4 linked regions of the Homo sapiens genome follow. The protein of the gene in region 3 purifies or fractionates together with the protein of the main gene of each other region. This does not show direct contact. Each region holds a gene or a part of one and is shown on either strand. Other genes may lie near its edges.

What was found.
Region 1: the proteins of FARP1 (region 3) and MTNAP1 purify together in Homo sapiens (affinity purification with mass spectrometry; one large-scale study listed by BioGRID and IntAct). This does not show direct contact.
Region 2: the proteins of FARP1 (region 3) and TAB1 purify together in Homo sapiens (affinity purification with mass spectrometry, with the first as the bait; one large-scale study listed by BioGRID). This does not show direct contact.
Region 4: the proteins of FARP1 (region 3) and MRPS35 purify together in Homo sapiens (affinity purification with mass spectrometry; one large-scale study listed by BioGRID and IntAct). This does not show direct contact.

Annotation. Positions count from the first base shown.
Region 1 is NC_000017.11:73,238,704-73,242,479, reverse strand, and holds part of MTNAP1 (mitochondrial nucleoid-associated protein 1), read right to left. Parts: intron 380-3,776; exon of another isoform or gene 237-379; coding exon 129-236; exon of another isoform or gene 58-128; coding exon of another isoform or gene 48-57; intron 1-47. Other genes in the region: CPSF4L (putative cleavage and polyadenylation specificity factor subunit 4-like protein), read left to right, coding at 48-57. UniProt on the Homo sapiens protein: Critical regulator of mitochondrial DNA (mtDNA) abundance. Binds dsDNA throughout the mitochondrial genome without sequence specificity and controls mtDNA copy number by promoting its replication.
Region 2 is NC_000022.11:39,423,551-39,427,326, reverse strand, and holds part of TAB1 (TGF-beta-activated kinase 1 and MAP3K7-binding protein 1), read right to left. Parts: intron 625-3,776; coding exon 402-624; intron 1-401. UniProt on the Homo sapiens protein: Key adapter protein that plays an essential role in JNK and NF-kappa-B activation and proinflammatory cytokines production in response to stimulation with TLRs and cytokines.
Region 3 is NC_000013.11:98,449,419-98,454,824, reverse strand, and holds part of FARP1 (FERM, ARHGEF and pleckstrin domain-containing protein 1), read right to left. Parts: 3' UTR 1,653-5,406; coding exon of another isoform or gene 1,616-1,652; 3' UTR 1-1,615. Other genes in the region: STK24 (serine/threonine-protein kinase 24 isoform a precursor), read left to right, coding at 1,616-1,652. UniProt on the Homo sapiens protein: Functions as a guanine nucleotide exchange factor for RAC1. May play a role in semaphorin signaling.
Region 4 is NC_000012.12:27,738,103-27,741,878, forward strand, and holds part of MRPS35 (small ribosomal subunit protein mS35 isoform 1 precursor), read left to right. Parts: intron 1-3,776.

The DNA of each region.
Region 1 (3,776 bases), on a different chromosome or scaffold from region 3:
CTAGGAAGACAACACACATTTTAACATTTTTTTCCTCTCCTCTTTAGCCTTGCTTAACAGCCCGAAGAGAAACTTTTCCAAATGCCCAGAACCTGCAACAGAAGACAACAGTCAAACTCCAGCCTCACCTTTTTGTACAGCTCCCAAGAGCCTCATTAGAGAGAAGTTGGAGGTTGTAAGTCCGGCAGGGGGTTCCAAACTCCTTATATGAGTTGAGCTTCGTTCCAACAAAGAAACTATGGTTCCAAACAGAAGTCACTGTCATTGTTTACCGAAACGTACCCCCTTCCCTAACATCCAGTGCCGAAGGATCCACGGCTAAGCCTCAGGAAGAGCATATTCTAAACAGGTGCATTAAAGATTTCTGCATTGGACTGCAGCTAAGTGTTGAAAGTCAAATCAATTACAGGTTGAAAAAATGTTTTTCAAAAGGCCAAGGGACCCCTGAAAATCAGGGCGTCTACTTGTTTTTTGGTCTGCTGAGTACCCTGGCCAGGTGATTGATGCGCATGTGCTTCATGAAGTGAGTCTCTTACATCATCTTTTTGTTTTTGACACAGTCTCACTCTCTCGCCCAGGCTGGAGTGCAGTGGCATGATCTTGGCTCACTGCAACCTCTACCTCCTGGGTTCGAGTGATTCTCCTGCCTCAGCCTCCCGAGTAGCTGGGATTACAGGCACACGCCATCACGCCAGGCTAATTTTTGTTATTTAGTAGAGACGGGGTTTCGCCACTTTGGCCAGGCTGGTCTTGAACTCCTGACCTCATGTGTTCTGCCCGCCCCAGCCTCCCAAACTGCTGGGATTATAGGCATGAACCACTGCGCCTGGCCTCTTTTACATATTCTATCATCTGCTAAACATGTCAGCTAAAAGCGTGACTTTCTCCTTTTATGATTGTGACTTGCCCACAGTCAACATGCCTGTTCTATCACCCTATCGCTATTATTGGCCAGCAAACATTTCCTATTTATGTTCAGTGCATGAATAACTTAAGCAGAACCAGAAAAGAGGGCTTATGCAGGCCGGGCGCGGTGGCTCACGCCTGTAATCCCAGCACTTTGGGAGGCTGAGGTGGGTGGATCACGACGTCAGGAGATTGAGACCATCCTGGCTAACACTGTAAAACCCCGTCTCTACTAAAAAACAGAAAAAATTAGCCGGGCGTGGTGGCGGGCGCTTGTAGTCCCAGCTACACGGGAGACTGAGGCAGGAGAATGGCGTGAACCCAGGAGGCGGAGCTTGCAGTGAGCAGAGATCGCTACACTGCACTCCAGCCTGGGCAACAGAGCAAGACTCTGCCTCAAAAACAAAAAAAAGAGGGCTTATGCTCCTTAATCACATTTCTCCTGTACATGGTTTTCTCCATGTTTTATGACAGGTAATCTCTACTACTGATAGTTCTCTAGTCTTGGTTTGGTTCATCAAGATAAAGAAGAAATTAAACACCGACAACAGGTTTAGCAAGTGTGGTAAAAGTTGCTGTGGATGTAAAAATATCCAAATGATCATTAAAGAACAATGAAAAGAATCATGCTGGCTTCCAAGAAATTGCACAGAAGATAATTCTCTTGCAAGGTGAAGGTTAGTCTCTTAAAAAAAAAACCCATTCATCTTGGAAAAAATTTGAGGAAAACGGTGTAAAGAGACAACTTCCTGAAAATTGCAACCATGTTGTCAGCAGTGTCAGGATCACGTGGCTCCCTGACCTTGCCCTGCTTTCTCCAGTCAGGTGAGCCTACTGTCCTGACCTGCAGTTAATTCAGTAACTGTTAGCTCACTGGCCCTGCCTTTTAAGTACCAAAGGAATGAGTTGGCTTCCTGAGAAGGGCAAATGACCTATCAAAGGTCTTGCCTGAGTGAGAAAAGGTATAGCCCATTCTCTTGTGCAAAGATTCCAATAAAACTCTAATTTGCAGTCATTGGAGACAGTCATTGCCTGGTGAAATTACAAAGCTTTTTAAGGAGCCAATGGCACCATCTTTTAATCCCTATAGATTGATATGGCCTTGAAGTCCTTGGCCAATGGAGGGATCAGGGCTTGACCTGATCCTAGGGTCTCTCTCCTCTAGTATCTTGTGTTCATTTGGTGGTAACATCAAAGTCTGAACACTGATCCTGGATCCAACTTCAATAGTTTTTCAGTTTATAATAGAAGTAGAGGCCCTATGATGATTACACCTTATTTACTGTCTTGATGTAGAAGTCCCAAACTAAGTACAACATTTATTAGTTACAGACTATGAGCAATAAAAGGGATTAAAATAGTTTCTCACCACTATTTGGAAGGAACTTGTTACTGAAGAAAAAATTCTATTTTCCCTCCTATATCCTGTCTCATAACCTTGGTAATTTAATGTTTTAAGTTACTGTATCTTATTATTGTATTCTTAGGAGCTAACAGTGAAATGTATCAATAACATATCAAACAAGGTATTGACTTCTATCTGTGGTCTTTAAACTCTACTTGAGGCTTACTGTTTGGGAGAGTTAGTAGTTAATACCTCCAGGTTCACCTGACTCTTCTATCTGTGGTCTTTAAACTCAACTTGAGGTTCACTGTTTGGAATAGTTAGTAGAGTCAGACGAACCTGGGTTTGAATCCTGATTCTGTCACTTACTGCATGAACATAGGGAAGTCACTTAATGTCTGAAGCTCAGGCCAGGCCTGGTGGCTCACACCTGTAATCCCAGCACTTTGGGAGGCCAAGGCGGGAGGATCACCTGAGGTCAGGAGTTCGAGACCAGCCTGGCCAACATGGCAAAACCCCATCTCTACTTAAAAAAAAAAAAAATTAGCTGGGCGTGGTGGCAGGCACCTGTAATCCCAGCTACTCTGGAGCCTGAAGCAGGAGAATCGCTTGAACCTGGGAGGTGGAGGTTGCAGTGAGCCGTGATTGTGCCATTGCACTCCAGCCTGGGAGACAGAGCAAGACTCTGTCTCAAGAAAAAAAAAAAAAGATGTCTGAAGCTCAGATTCCTCAAGAGGAATAAGAGGGTGGGACAGTGGTGTCACTCAGAGCTGTTATGAGGATTAAATGACATAATGTATCTAGCATAACGATAGTCATAGTCATCACAGATAAACGTCAGGTCCCTCACTTTTTCCTCTAAAATGAAAAGTGTGTATCAAGGACACTCCTAAGCACTATAAAATGTAGTACAGAAAATACACAAGTCCTTCAATTTGGTAGAGAGATTTATCATGGGGGGAGTGTGTGCATCTGCAACTGAAAAACACAGAAGGCTGGACACGGTGGTTCACACCTGTAATCCCAGCACTTTGGGAGGTTGAGGCGGGCAGATCACCTGAGGTCACGAGTTCAAGACCAGCCTGACCAACACGGAGAAACCCCATCTCTACTAAAAATACAAAATTAGCCGGGCGTGGTGGCGCATACCTGTATCCCAGCTACTTGGGAGGCTGAGGCAGGAGAATCGCTTGAACCCAGGAGGCAGAGGTGAGCCAAGATCACACCACTGCACTCCAACCTGGGCAATGAGCAAAACTCTGTCTCAAAAAACAAACAAACAAAAAAACAAAACACACACACACACAGAAAAGTATGGCACTATAACAAACATGGTTTTAGTTATGGTGTATTTTCTACAACATGGTTTAGTGGAAAAGATTAAACTAGGCCTCAGGAAACTAGGTTCTCCTTGCAGCTCTACTATTTATTGGCAACACAAACTTGGACAAATCACTTATGCTCTCTGTGCCTGTTTCATCATCCACAAAATAGGATAAATTCACTCTGCCCACCTCTCTGTCCA
Region 2 (3,776 bases), on a different chromosome or scaffold from region 3:
CAGTTTCCCTCTCTGGAAAACAGGGGTACCACCTGTCTTTAGGGTTGCCCATGAGGACTGAAGGGAATAAGGCAGGCTGTGTGCCTGGCACAAGGGAGGCACTCAATCAGTGGTGGCCATCATCTCTATTATGTGGCTTCAGGGCTCTGTGAATTGCTTGCTGGGGCACTCAGGTTCTGGGAGGTTGCCGGGGCAGGTGGTATTAACCTCATTTTACAGACAAAAGAGCAAAAATCAACACTCAGCTCAGAGAGGCTAAAAATCAGAGAACCTGAATTAGAGCCACTCAGAGCCAGGCCTCCTGACTCCATCTCCGTTTCAAGCAGCCTCGGGGGCTCTGCACCCACCTCTGGCCCCCAGATGGCATCCCCAGGCACTGCCTGTCTGCACAGCACACGTACCTGGGGCTGGGCTCGGTGTGGGCTGGCTCATTTCGCCCAGCGGGTAGCCAAAGTTCCTCACTAGCAGGGTCATGTCCTCGTGCCGGGGGCAGAACCTGGCACGCTCCCCACCACTGGCGAAGGTGTCGCTGTGGATGCGCTTCACCCGGTCCACGACGGCCTGGGCCACTGCGTCCAGGGAGGTCTGCTTGGCAAACTCAGTGTCAATCATCGCAGCAATCTCCTGGGGGAGGGGGTAGGAAGAACCTGGTAAGGAACGAGGTGCGGCCTGGGGGGCATGGGCCATAATCTTGGAGCCTAAAATCAGGAGATTCAGTGGTCAACAGCCCAGCAGGTGAAGGAAATGCCTGCCAGCCAAGTTTGCAATCTGAGCCTTTCAAGGTATTCAGGATAATCCTTCTGGAACTTTCTCATTAGGAAGTGTGTGCTCTTGTGATTGCTCTAATTGTTGGGTGCACACCTCTAGGATGGGGAGAACATCCATTTGACTGGGTGAATACGAGTATTAACTAACAGTGGTGTGAGAGCACTCTGCCAGCCACTAAAAAGCCTAGTAGCAAGTGTCATTATTATGAAACACTCTTTCCTGGAACAAACTTGTTGTAGGCGATGTTATACATGCTAGGATTTTGTCAGGAACTGGGGATACAGAATGAAAACAGGGTCCCTGACCTCAGAGAAGTCCCTGTCTAGTATACAGATGTTCCTCAATTTAGGATGGGACTATGTCCTGACAAACCCACTGTAAGTTGAAAATATCATAAGTTGACCGGGCACAGTGGCTTGCGCCTGTAATCCCAGCACTTTGGGAGGCTGAGGTGGGAGGACTGCCAGAGGTCAGGAGATCGAGACCAGCTTGGCCAACATGTTGAAACCCCGTCTCTACTTAAAAATACAAAAATTAGCTGGGCATGGTGGCACATGCCTGTAATCCCAGCAACTTGAGAGGCTGAGGCAGGAGAATTGCTTGAGCCCAGGAGACGGAGGTTGCAGGGAGCCGAGACCAGCCTGGCCAACAGGGCAAGACTCTGTCTCAAAAAAAAAAAAAAAAAGAAAATATCGTAAGTTGAAAAAGCATTTGGCCGGGCGTGGTGGCTCACACCTGTAATCTCAGCACTTTGGGATTCTGAGGCAGGCCGATCATGAGGTCAGGAGATCGAGACCATCCTGGCTAATACGGTGAAACCCCATCTCTACTAAAAATACAAAAAATTAGCCGGGCGTGGTGGCGGGTGCCTGTAGTCCCAGCTACTCGGGAGGCTGAGGCAGAATGGCGTGAACCCGGGAGGTGATCAGTAAGCCCAGATCGAGCCACTGCACTCCAGCCTGGGTGACAGAGCGAGACTCCATCTCAAAAAAAAAAAAAGAAAAGAAAAAGCATTTAATGCACCTAATCTACTGAACATCATCACTTAGCCTAGCCTACCTTAAATGTGCTCAGAACACTTCTATTAGCCTACGGCTGGGCAAAATCATCTAGCACAAAGCCTATTTTCATTATTATATAAGAAAATGTTGAATCCCATGTAATTTTTTTTTTTTTGAGACAGAGTCTCACTGTGTTGACCAGGCTGGAGTGCAGTGCTGTGATCTCAGCTCACTGCAAGTTCCATCTCCCAGGTTCAAGAATTCTCCCGCCTCAGCCTCCCGAGTAGCTAGGATTACAGGCGTGCGTCACTATGCACCAGATAATTTTTTTTTTTTTTTGTATTTTTAGTAGAGATGGGGTTTCACCGTATTAGCCAGGATGGTCTCGATCTCCTGACCTAAAGTGATCTTCCCGCCTCAGCCTCCCAAAGTGCTGGGATTACAGGCGTGAGCCACCACGCCCAGCCGAATCTCATGTAATTTATTGAGTACTGTTTTGACAGTGAAAAACAGAATGGTTGTAGGGGTATGGGAGCACAGTTCCCACTGAATATGTATCACTTTCTCACCATCATAAAGTTTCTTTTGGGCGGGGCAGGAGGGCAGGGACAGGTAATAGGAAATGACCTGCACCTGGTCCTGGTGGGCTCAGTTTCAACACTAAGCAGCAACGTCACTTCTGGCAAGAACCTGAACTCCGTGGACCCCAAATTCCCTACTCTACCTGGAAATAAGCCCCTGTCCCTCTATGTTATAAGGCTACTGGAAGGAATGGTAAGCTTATATAACAGGTAAAGAAATCAGAACACAGGCTGGGCGCAGTGGCTCATGTCTATAATCCCAGAACTTTGGGAGGCCAAGGCAGGTGGATCATCTGAGGTTACGAGTTCAAGATAAGCCTGGCCAAAAAGGCAAAACCCCATCTCTACTAAAAATACAAAAATTAGCCGGGTGTGGTGGTGGCACATGCCTGTAGTCCCAGCTACTCAGGAGGCTGAGGCAGAAGAATGACTTGAACCCGGGAGGTGGAGGTTACAGTGAGCCGAGATTGCACCACTGCACTCCAGCTTGGCCAACAGAGCAAGACTCCATCTCAAAAAAAAAAAAAAAAAAAAAAAAGAAATCAGAACACAGGGAACAGGGGATAGTTAGGCACTTGAGACTTTTTCGAAGTAGATCTGCATTCAATCCAGCAGTCTGGGCATCTACCTAAAGGAAAATAAGTCATTATATGAAAAAGATACTTGCACACGTATGTTTATAGCAGCACAATTCACAATTGCAAAGATGTGGAACCAGCCTAAGTGGCCATTGACTAATGAGCAGATAAAGAAAATGTATCTATAAACTATGGAATACTACTCAGCCAGTAAAAGGAAAGAATGAATGTCTTTTGCAGCAACTTGGATGGAGATGAAGGCCATTATTCTAAGTAACACAGGAGTGGAAAACCACAAACTATGTTCTCACTCGTAAGTGGGAGCTAAATGATGGGAATGCACAGGCATACAGAGTGATATAATGGAACTTTAGAGACTCAAGGCGGGAGGATGGCAGTGGTGCTAGGGATAAAACACTATACATTAGTTACAATGTACACTATAAAACACTATACATTAGTTACAACGTACACTATAAAACACTATACATTAGTTACAATGTACACTATAAAACACTATACATTAGTTACAATGTACACTATAAAACACTATACATTAGTTACAATGTACACTATAAAACACTATACATTAGTTACAATGTACACTATAAAACACTATACATTACTTACAATGTACACTACTGGAATAACTGGTTTACTAAGATCTCAGAATTCACCACTACATAATTCATCCCTATAACAAAAAAATACTGGTACCTCAAAAGCTACTGAAATAAAAATTAATTTTCAAATTTTAAAGAAGACTTTTTCCTCATGATATTGATTGATTGATTGAGACAGAGTCTTGCTCTGTTGCTCAGGCTGGAGTGCAGTGGTGCGATCTTGGC
Region 3 (5,406 bases):
TCATCTCTCTGCAGGCTTGGCTGTGGTACCCACTTCTTCCTTCCCTGCTCCTGAAGCTCCCACTGAGCGTTCACCCCGATGGCTGCCAAAACCACGGTGGCCATGGCTTAGACTTCCTGCCAGTTTTGCTCCAAACATGTTGTTTCAGTGGATGGCTGTAGGAAAAATGAGAGCCGCCTCTCCTCTGAAGCATTTTCAGAGCCTTTCTGTCTCAGCTGGAATTAATGTTTGGATTCTTTTGTGTGACATCAACTCATCCCGTGATTTAGTCATTTGTATTTCTTGATAGTTGAGTCTTAGGCTCCGTGGCTAATGTGTGCTTTTGGGAGGACCTTATGTAACCATTTGTTCTCTGGGAGAGATGCCAAGTATTTCAAATGCCTGAAAAGAGGAGCTCTAGATTGGAACGTTTGAGATAAGCCTGGTCAAAGACATCCTCAGCCATCTCTCCTGGACCTGTGATTTGGAGTCTGTTGTAAAATGGTTGAGGGAATTGTGGTCATGAGGGGACCCCGTTCTCACCCTTTGTTGTCTTCTGAAGACAATCTTGTAGAATTTTTGGAAGACACAGAAATTACCCATGATCCCACCACTGTAGCCCAAATCTCATCAGCATCTTTGGGTGCATTGCCTTCTGTTGTCATACCAGGTCATAAACTTACTGAATTCTCTTATCTACCTTATAGTGCAAAGAAGATTTTTTAGAATTTCTATAGTACTTAATTTAGGATACAGAAGTTGTTCATGTAAATATACTTATATAGTGCACATATACAGGCTGAATATCCCAAATCCCCAATCTGAAACTTTTGAGCGCCAGCATGGGGCTCAAAGGAACTGCTCTCTGGGGCATGTCAGATTTCGGATTTGGGGCTGCACACTGGTAAGTATAATGCGGATATTCCCAGATCCAAAGCCAGAAGCATTTCAGATAAGGGATGCCCAATCTGTAATTTTGTATGTACTTTTAAACTTGTACATATTTTTAATATTGCTTTAATATATATATGTAAATACAGATAATTACCATTTTTAGTCTGTTATTTCAGTTTGTATAATTTACTTAACTGATTCTGTACTGTTGGGCATCAGAGTTGTTTCCAAATTAGTGTAATTACGAAAATCCCGAGAGACATCTTTGTGCAGACACGTTGTTCCTGCTTTGGACCATATTTCGGAAGCAGTTCTAGGAAATAGATTCTTGGACTGCATCACTATTTTTATGGCCAAAATGGGTTTCCTGCCCTCACATCGGGAATGCATATGCATCCCTGGAATCTTACTGTGTCATCATGTATGGATCAATGTTCACTTTTTGACAATTGATCGTAAGTAAAAGGGATATGATTTCCCGTTTTATTCACATCTCTCCAGGGAGGCTGAACCCATTCTTGGTTTTTGGTGACATGCTCTGGAGTTTTTGTGTAAGAATCATGATCTTCTCAGTCTTTATATGCATTCTTTTAAAATTAGACTTACACATTGATATTTGCTCCACTTATTTTTGTATGACTTGGAATTTCTTATGAAAACTAAGATTTTGGTTACTATATGAATTTTTGCACAGGGATGAGAAATGACATGTGTTGACTTCTCTCTCTCTCTTTTTCCCTAGATACTCTCTAAGTGGTGGAGGAACTTCATCCCACTGAAATTCCTTTGGCATTTGGGGTTTTGTTTTTCCTTTTTTCCTTCTTCATCCTCCTCCTTTTTTAAAAGTCAACGAGAGCCTTCGCTGACTCCACCGAAGAGGTGCGCCACTGGGAGCCACCCCAGCGCCAGGCGCCCGTCCAGGGACACACACAGTCTTCACTGTGCTGCAGCCAGATGAAGTCTCTCAGATGGGTGGGGAGGGTCAGCTCCTTCCAGCGATCATTTTATTTTATTTTATTACTTTTGTTTTTAATTTTAACCATAGTGCACATATTCCAGGAAAGTGTCTTTAAAAACAAAAACAAACCCTGAAATGTATATTTGGGATTATGATAAGGCAACTAAAGACATGAAACCTCAGGTATCCTGCTTTAAGTTGATAACTCCCTCTGGGAGCTGGAGAATCGCTCTGGTGGATGGGTGTACAGATTTGTATATAATGTCATTTTTACGGAAACCCTTTCGGCGTGCATAAGGAATCACTGTGTACAAACTGGCCAAGTGCTTCTGTAGATAACGTCAGTGGAGTAAATATTCGACAGGCCATAACTTGAGTCTATTGCCTTGCCTTTATTACATGTACATTTTGAATTCTGTGACCAGTGATTTGGGTTTTATTTTGTATTTGCAGGGTTTGTCATTAATAATTAATGCCCCTCTCTTACAGAACACTCCTATTTGTACCTCAACAAATGCAAATTTTCCCCGTTTGCCCTACGCCCCTTTTGGTACACCTAGAGGTTGATTTCCTTTTTCATCGATGGTACTATTTCTTAGTGTTTTAAATTGGAACATATCTTGCCTCATGAAGCTTTAAATTATAATTTTCAGTTTCTCCCCATGAAGCGCTCTCGTCTGACATTTGTTTGGAATCGTGCCACTGCTGGTCTGCGCCAGATGTACCGTCCTTTCCAATACGATTTTCTGTTGCACCTTGTAGTGGATTCTGCATATCATCTTTCCCACCTAAAAATGTCTGAATGCTTACACAAATAAATTTTATAACACGCTTATTTTGCATACTCCTTGAAATGTGACTCTTCAGAGGACAGGGCACCTGCTGTGTATGTGTGGCCGTGCGTGTGTACTCGTGGCTGTGTGTGTGTGATGAGACACTTTGGAAGACTCCAGGGAGAAGTCCCCAGGCCTGGAGCTGCCGAGTGCCCAGGTCAGCGCCCTGGACTGCTTGCGCACTTGCTCACCGAGATGATGCAGTTGGAGGTTGCTGATCTGTGCGATTGCTGTAGCGGTTGCCGGGGACCTTAAGAGTTATTTTGCTTCTCTGGAAGGGGCCTATGCTTGCTAGGCAGGCAGCCAGTGTGTCTGTTTTTCTTGGTTTGCTGTGGGACCTTGCTTGGCGAGGGGGAAAATCTCTGGGTTTCTGGAGTGGGAGGGTTCGTGCAGCAGCTGTTGACTGGTACATGAAGCATTCTTTTATGTTTGTTGAAGCTGATGATTGACATCTCCCGTGGGTGTGCCAGTTCTTGTGGAGTTAAGACAGGATTTTTGGAAGCAAGGAAGTTAGTGGGTGAGCTTGGGGATGTAGCTCAGCTATCTGCTGGTCTAGTGGCCTCTAAGCTATAGGGAGGGGACAGAGCCCTGAGCTACAGATGCTTGAGTGGGTTATTGTGTCGGTTTGCTAGTGCAGTCTGGTTTTTAAGCTCTAAAATTGAGGTATTTTATTAGAAGTGGATTTGGGTTGAACTCTTAATTTGTATAAGGGATATATTTTGGTTGGGGAAATAGAACTGAGTTGCTAATTCTTATTGTACTCATTACTCCATACAAGAATGTTATGTTGAATAATAAAATTGGAGAAGATTTCATTTTGTGTTTCCAGGGAGTATTCTGTGTGGGGAACTGTTTCCTTACGTGAGGCCGGCGGCATAAGTCAAAGATGAGTTTTGTCCTTGCGAATCACACAGATTGAGTCTGTGTTCCCCAGGGTGTGCCGTTACCTGATTTTTAAGTGAGCCAGGGCGGACAGCAGCTTTTCTGATTTACAGAGTTCTTCAGATTTACAAATGGACAATGACATCACAGTTTTTAGCACTGAAGCCAGTCTCATGCTAGTAACAGTGGGTGAGCCGCTCGAGGGACTGGGTTCTAATGAATACTGGTATGAACGGGGAGTCTCTGCAGTCGCCAGACAAATCATACTCAGCCCCTTCCCCCGTAGAGCAACAAGTGGTTCTTTTAGAGTTGACTGGCAGCATTTCCTGTCGGGGGAGGTGGGGTTTGATGGAGTTAGAAAGCTCGCCTCTGTGTACATTCTCTCCTGGGCTGTTACTTTCTGTAGACGCACAAAATCAGCCCCAATGTTTTTAAGGGCATCTTAGCCAAGGAAGCTGGCTTTTGTGTCGCCACTTCCAGGCCTGCATTAAGAGAGAGCCCAGGCACCAGGGCTACCACTGGAACCTGCCTCAGCGTCAACTGCTGCTGGTCTGTAGCCAGGCCCAGCCTTTGAGACGGGTTTACTGTCACCAGTAGCCTCTCAGTGCCAGCCCTGAGCTGCTCCTGGCTCAGCTGCCCAGAGCCTGCAGCCTGGGGAGGTACTCAGCCTCTGGGAGACGAGGGCCGTGGACTGGGTGGCTGGTAGCTCCTGCGTTTTTGAGCTGTGTCCTGGCTGGCTGCTGCCAATGAGGTGGACACCAGTGTGGTTTGGGGTGCACTGGCCACTTCTTGCTGGGTTCTGATTTTCTTGGAAGTGCATCTGCCTTCCTTATCCAATAGTTTTATCCCTGCATTGCTCTTGTGAAGTGGCTGGTTTGGTTCTGTATGTAGCATTTTGTACCTTTCCTCTGGCAAAACACTGTCAGTTTATAAACATTTTTTATATTTCCCTCCTTTAAAAACAGCTTGTGTATTTCTGCTATAAAATGTGTCAGCAAAGGCAGAGTGACCTAATAGGGCATGTTCTTAAGCACAGGGACTGTATCATGCAGGGGCCAATAAAGCTCAAGAAAACGAGTATCTGCATCATTGTGTGTCTCATGTGTAGTGTGTCTCAAACTCCACTCAGATGGACTGTTACCCACACTAGTATTTTCTTGAGGGCACACAGGAAGCAGAGGTGCTGGTCACAGGTCAGAACCACCAGTGTCCAGCAAGTAGTTTGGAATCAATCAATCATTCAGAAATAAATAGCTGAGGAGACTGCCTTGTCCCCAAGTCTCCAGGAATGAGTGAGTGGTGACTTCTGGAGGGAGCCTGATGCTGCTGTGTGGCCCGGAGCTGTTTGTTTGCTCTGCCCCTGCCTGGAGGTGGGGGGAGCATAGGGAACAGTGGGGGGCAGGCCCTCCCTGTGTCACTCTGAACACTGGGGCTTTAGAAACCCTTGCTGGAGTGTCCCCTTCCCCCCTCCCCCCCCACACAGAAAATGAAGACTACAGACAAAGTTGGTTGTTTTGCCTTAAAACATCAATATGCTGGATTGTGGCGTGAGGTATTTTTATTCCCTTTGTTAGTACTGGAAACCGTCTGGTACATCTTGTAAGGCAAATGATTAACACACGGCAGGCTCTTCGTCCGTTTGCAAGTTGCTGTTTGTTTCCAGCTACACCAGTCAGAGCTCCACAGAGAGGGTGCGTTCCTGGTTCTCAGGTGGGCAGGTGCTATGGTGCGGGGCGCTGGAAAGAATGGGGTTGAATTGGCCCTCGCCTCCGCTTGTTTGAGACTCTCGTTAGAAAGGGCTTAGGAAAACCAAGGGAATGGCAGCCACCCCATCACCATCGAGAACAGGCAGACGTTTCC
Region 4 (3,776 bases), on a different chromosome or scaffold from region 3:
TTCCAAAATGCTTGGGACCAGAAGTGTTTCAGACTTTAGATTTTTTCAGATTTTGGAATATTTGCATATTAATATATAATGAGATATCTTGGGGAGGGGACCCAAGTCTAAACAGGAGATTCATTTATGTTTCATATACACTTTATACACATAGCCTAAAGGTAATTTTACACAATACTTTCAGTAATTGTGTGCATGAAAATTTTGACCGTGCTCCATCACATGAGATCAAGTGTAAATTTTCCATTTGTGTGTCATATCAGTGTTCAAAAAGTTTTGGATTTTCAAGCATTTCAGATTTTAGATTTTCAGATTAGTAATGCTAAACCTGTATTTAAATAATATTAAAAATACTCGAGTCTGAATTTAGAGAGTTTTCATGTAAGTATGTACATTTATAAGGAAGATTTTGCCATGCTTGAGCAACACCTCATCTGATTTGAAGTTGGTAGCCAATATGTTTAGGTAACTCAAAGTTTGAAACAGTAATTTTTAAAATTAAAATAATTATAGGTATGCATTTAAATTAAATTTTTTGTGCCTTACCCAACACAGGGGACTCAATAGCATTTCATACTAGGAACATTCAAAGGAATAAAGTTAGCTGGAGAAGGGGGTCATGTTCTTTAGAAAGGACTTCATATGTCAGTGTCTACAGAAACAGTGAAAAAAGGAAAAAGAAGTAAAGAAAAATAGAAAAAATAAAAGTTTTCATATGGAAGAGGGCTTACATTTGTTTTTAATGACTCTTAGAGATACAACAAGGTAGCGACAATAGTAAGACAGAGACAGACTTTGGTTTACTGAGAACTTTTTTTTTTTTTTTTTTAAAGTCTCACTCTGTTGCCCAGGCTGGAGTGCAGTGGAGCGATCTTGGCTCACTGCAACCTCCGCCTCCCAGGCTCAAGTTATTCTTCCCGAGTAGCCAGGATTACAGGCATGCACCACTACCGCCTGGCTAATTTTTGTATATTTAGTAGAGACAAGGTTTTGCCATGTTGGCCAGGCTGGTCTCGAACTCCTAACCTCAGGTGATCCACCCGCCTCGGCCTCCCGAAGTGCTGGGATTACAGTTGTGAGCCACCATGTCCAGCCCTCCCAAGGGGAACTTTGTGAGAGAGCCATCATAAGATGCAATGAGCTACTTCAGTAGGTAGAAAACATTCCATCCATCGGCCACTTAGTGAAGATAGGCAAAAAAAATATACTCCTTGAATAGGTAGTTAAATTCCATGGCCTTTGGAACCTCCTTTCAGCCCAAGTTACTGTGATTCTGTGAATACATGCAGCTGTTCTCTAAACTGCTCACAGCTTTTCCTTCATATTATGATAAAAGAGTTTTCACACAAGAGGATGAATGGAAAGTGAAAGAAAAAAACTTGGTTGTGAGATGAGTAAAAGACAAAAAGTAGCTGGTAAGCTCTTCTCTTCTTTACAATTATTTCCATTATTATAATTTATCTGGATTTTCTAGTTCTGGCTTTAAGAGCAACATCAGAATAGCAGTTAATCTCTTTCCTACACAATTGATTTTAGAAATGCTGTTGGCTTAAGATAATTAAGTTTTCTTTTGAACCAGCAACATGGCTGAATTAGCTACAGCTTTATGGCTGTTGCTGCTTAAAGATTTAATAACTAACAATAAATACAACCCGTTTTGACTTTCTTATTTTGCCAGTATCTATTAGAATGAATTTGCCCAGAAGGAAATGATAGGCATAAATTCAGTGGAAGTTGATTTATGGGATTCTTTCTGTGGTTCCGTGACTTAGAATCCAAACAGGGTTGCATTCTGGATTCACACAGAAGCCTTTGATCTTTAGTGCTGATTACTTTGATGCCAGGATAAGTAGCCACATACAACTGTCCAAACAAGTATACTTGAAGAATTCTATATTACCGTTGTTTCTTGGTGCTTTCTAAACAAGTACCATCAGTGAAGAAGATTTTGAATACAGATGAGCCGTGAAATTTTGCGGAGCTGCTAGAAAAGAATTTTTATTGAATTGAAATTCATTTTCCCTCACCAACATGGAATTCATACTTGAAATTGATGTTATCACCGTTATTTAATCAAATAGAGAGCCTCTTTTTAATCCATTGCTTGATTTTTTTTATAGGCTAGCTTCTGAGCATTTAATACCCAAATATATGCTTCCTTTGGCTTTTTTTTTTTTTTCTTCGAGTCAGGGTCTTGCTTTGTTGTCCAGGCTGGAGTGCAGTGGTATGATCATGGCTCACTGCAGCCTTGGCCTCCTGCGTTCAAGTGACCCTCCCACCTCAGCCTCCTGAATAGCTGGGACTACAGGCGCATGGCACCATGCCCAGCTAATTTTTGCATTTTTTTTGTAGAGATGGGATTTCACTGTGTTGTCCAGGTTGGTCTTGAACTCCTGGGCTCAGGCAATCCATTCACCTTGGCCTCCCAAAGTGTTGGATTATAGGCATGAGCCACTGTGCCCTGCCTTCCCTTGGCTTTTTAACCTTCCCCTAGAGGTTACCTCTAAGTAGCACTGAGGGGAAAGTAGCTGCTAATTTTATGTAGCTTGTAGTACTGAAATCCCTCTGGAGAAGTGATCACCTAGACTCCAGTAGAAGGATATTACTGTTGTATACTATTCAAAACAGTTTAACTATAGAAGTGTCAAAGTAGATTTCAGTAAGCATAGACATCGCAAAGCCTAAGCTTCAGGCATAAAGGCTTAATACTGCCTCAAAGAATAATTATTTCAGTGCTGGGAAGGTGATAAGAGACACATATTCACTGGACCATTCATTTATCCTTCAGCAGTTTAAAGAAGCAAGGAGGCTGGGAGCACTTTGGGAGGCAAAGGCAGGCGGATTGCCCGAGCTCAGGAGTTCGATACCACCCTGGGCAACATGATGAAACCCCGTCTCTACTAAAAATACAAAAAATTAGCCAGGCATGGTGGTGGGTGCCTGTAGTCCCAGCTACTCGGGAGACTGAGGCACAAGAATCGCTTGAACCCGGGAGTCGGAGGTTGCAGTGAGCCAAGATCGCACCACTGCACTCCAGTCTGGGCGACAGAGTGAGACTCTGTCTCAAAAAAAAAATAATAATAATAATTAAAAAATAAGCAAGGAGAGTTGTAGAGATTTGGTGTCCTATTTTAGTATTACGTATTGTTAGCATTGGAATGAATTTTTAACCTTTGGAGCCAGACAGACATGGATTTGAATTCCAGGGCCATTACTTAGTACCTGTGTAATAGCCTCGACTATTTAACCTCTGAGGTTCAGTTTTTTCCTAAGGATTTTTGGATGGATCAGGGAGAATTTGTGTAAAGTGTCTGGCAAATAGTGGGCTCTCCATAAGCATCTATAAATAATGTTGATATTAACAATAATAAAATGAGGAAAGATTTTTTTCTTAGAATTTTAAATTCATGGTTTCCCAATTTCTATTAATATATACAGCTTATATTTAATTTGGCAGAGTTTGTACAAGTAAAGTCAGATCTATACTCTTTAGGATGTGTATCCTACTCACAATTTGACATAATTGATGATAACACAACTTCCTTAATTTTAACTTTTTAGTGATTTTTTAATAATTGAAACCTTCCGTAAATGATTAGGTTGAGAAATAATGAGTCAGTTTGCAAAGTGACTTGCACAAAAGATGAGCACAAATACTGGGGAAGAGAAAAAAAACAGTTGCTTTAGAAAAGTTAGAGATCTGAAATCAAATTTCAGAGATTCATGGGTGATTTTGATATTGAATTACTAATGGTTGCTTTTTTACATTTTAAAAT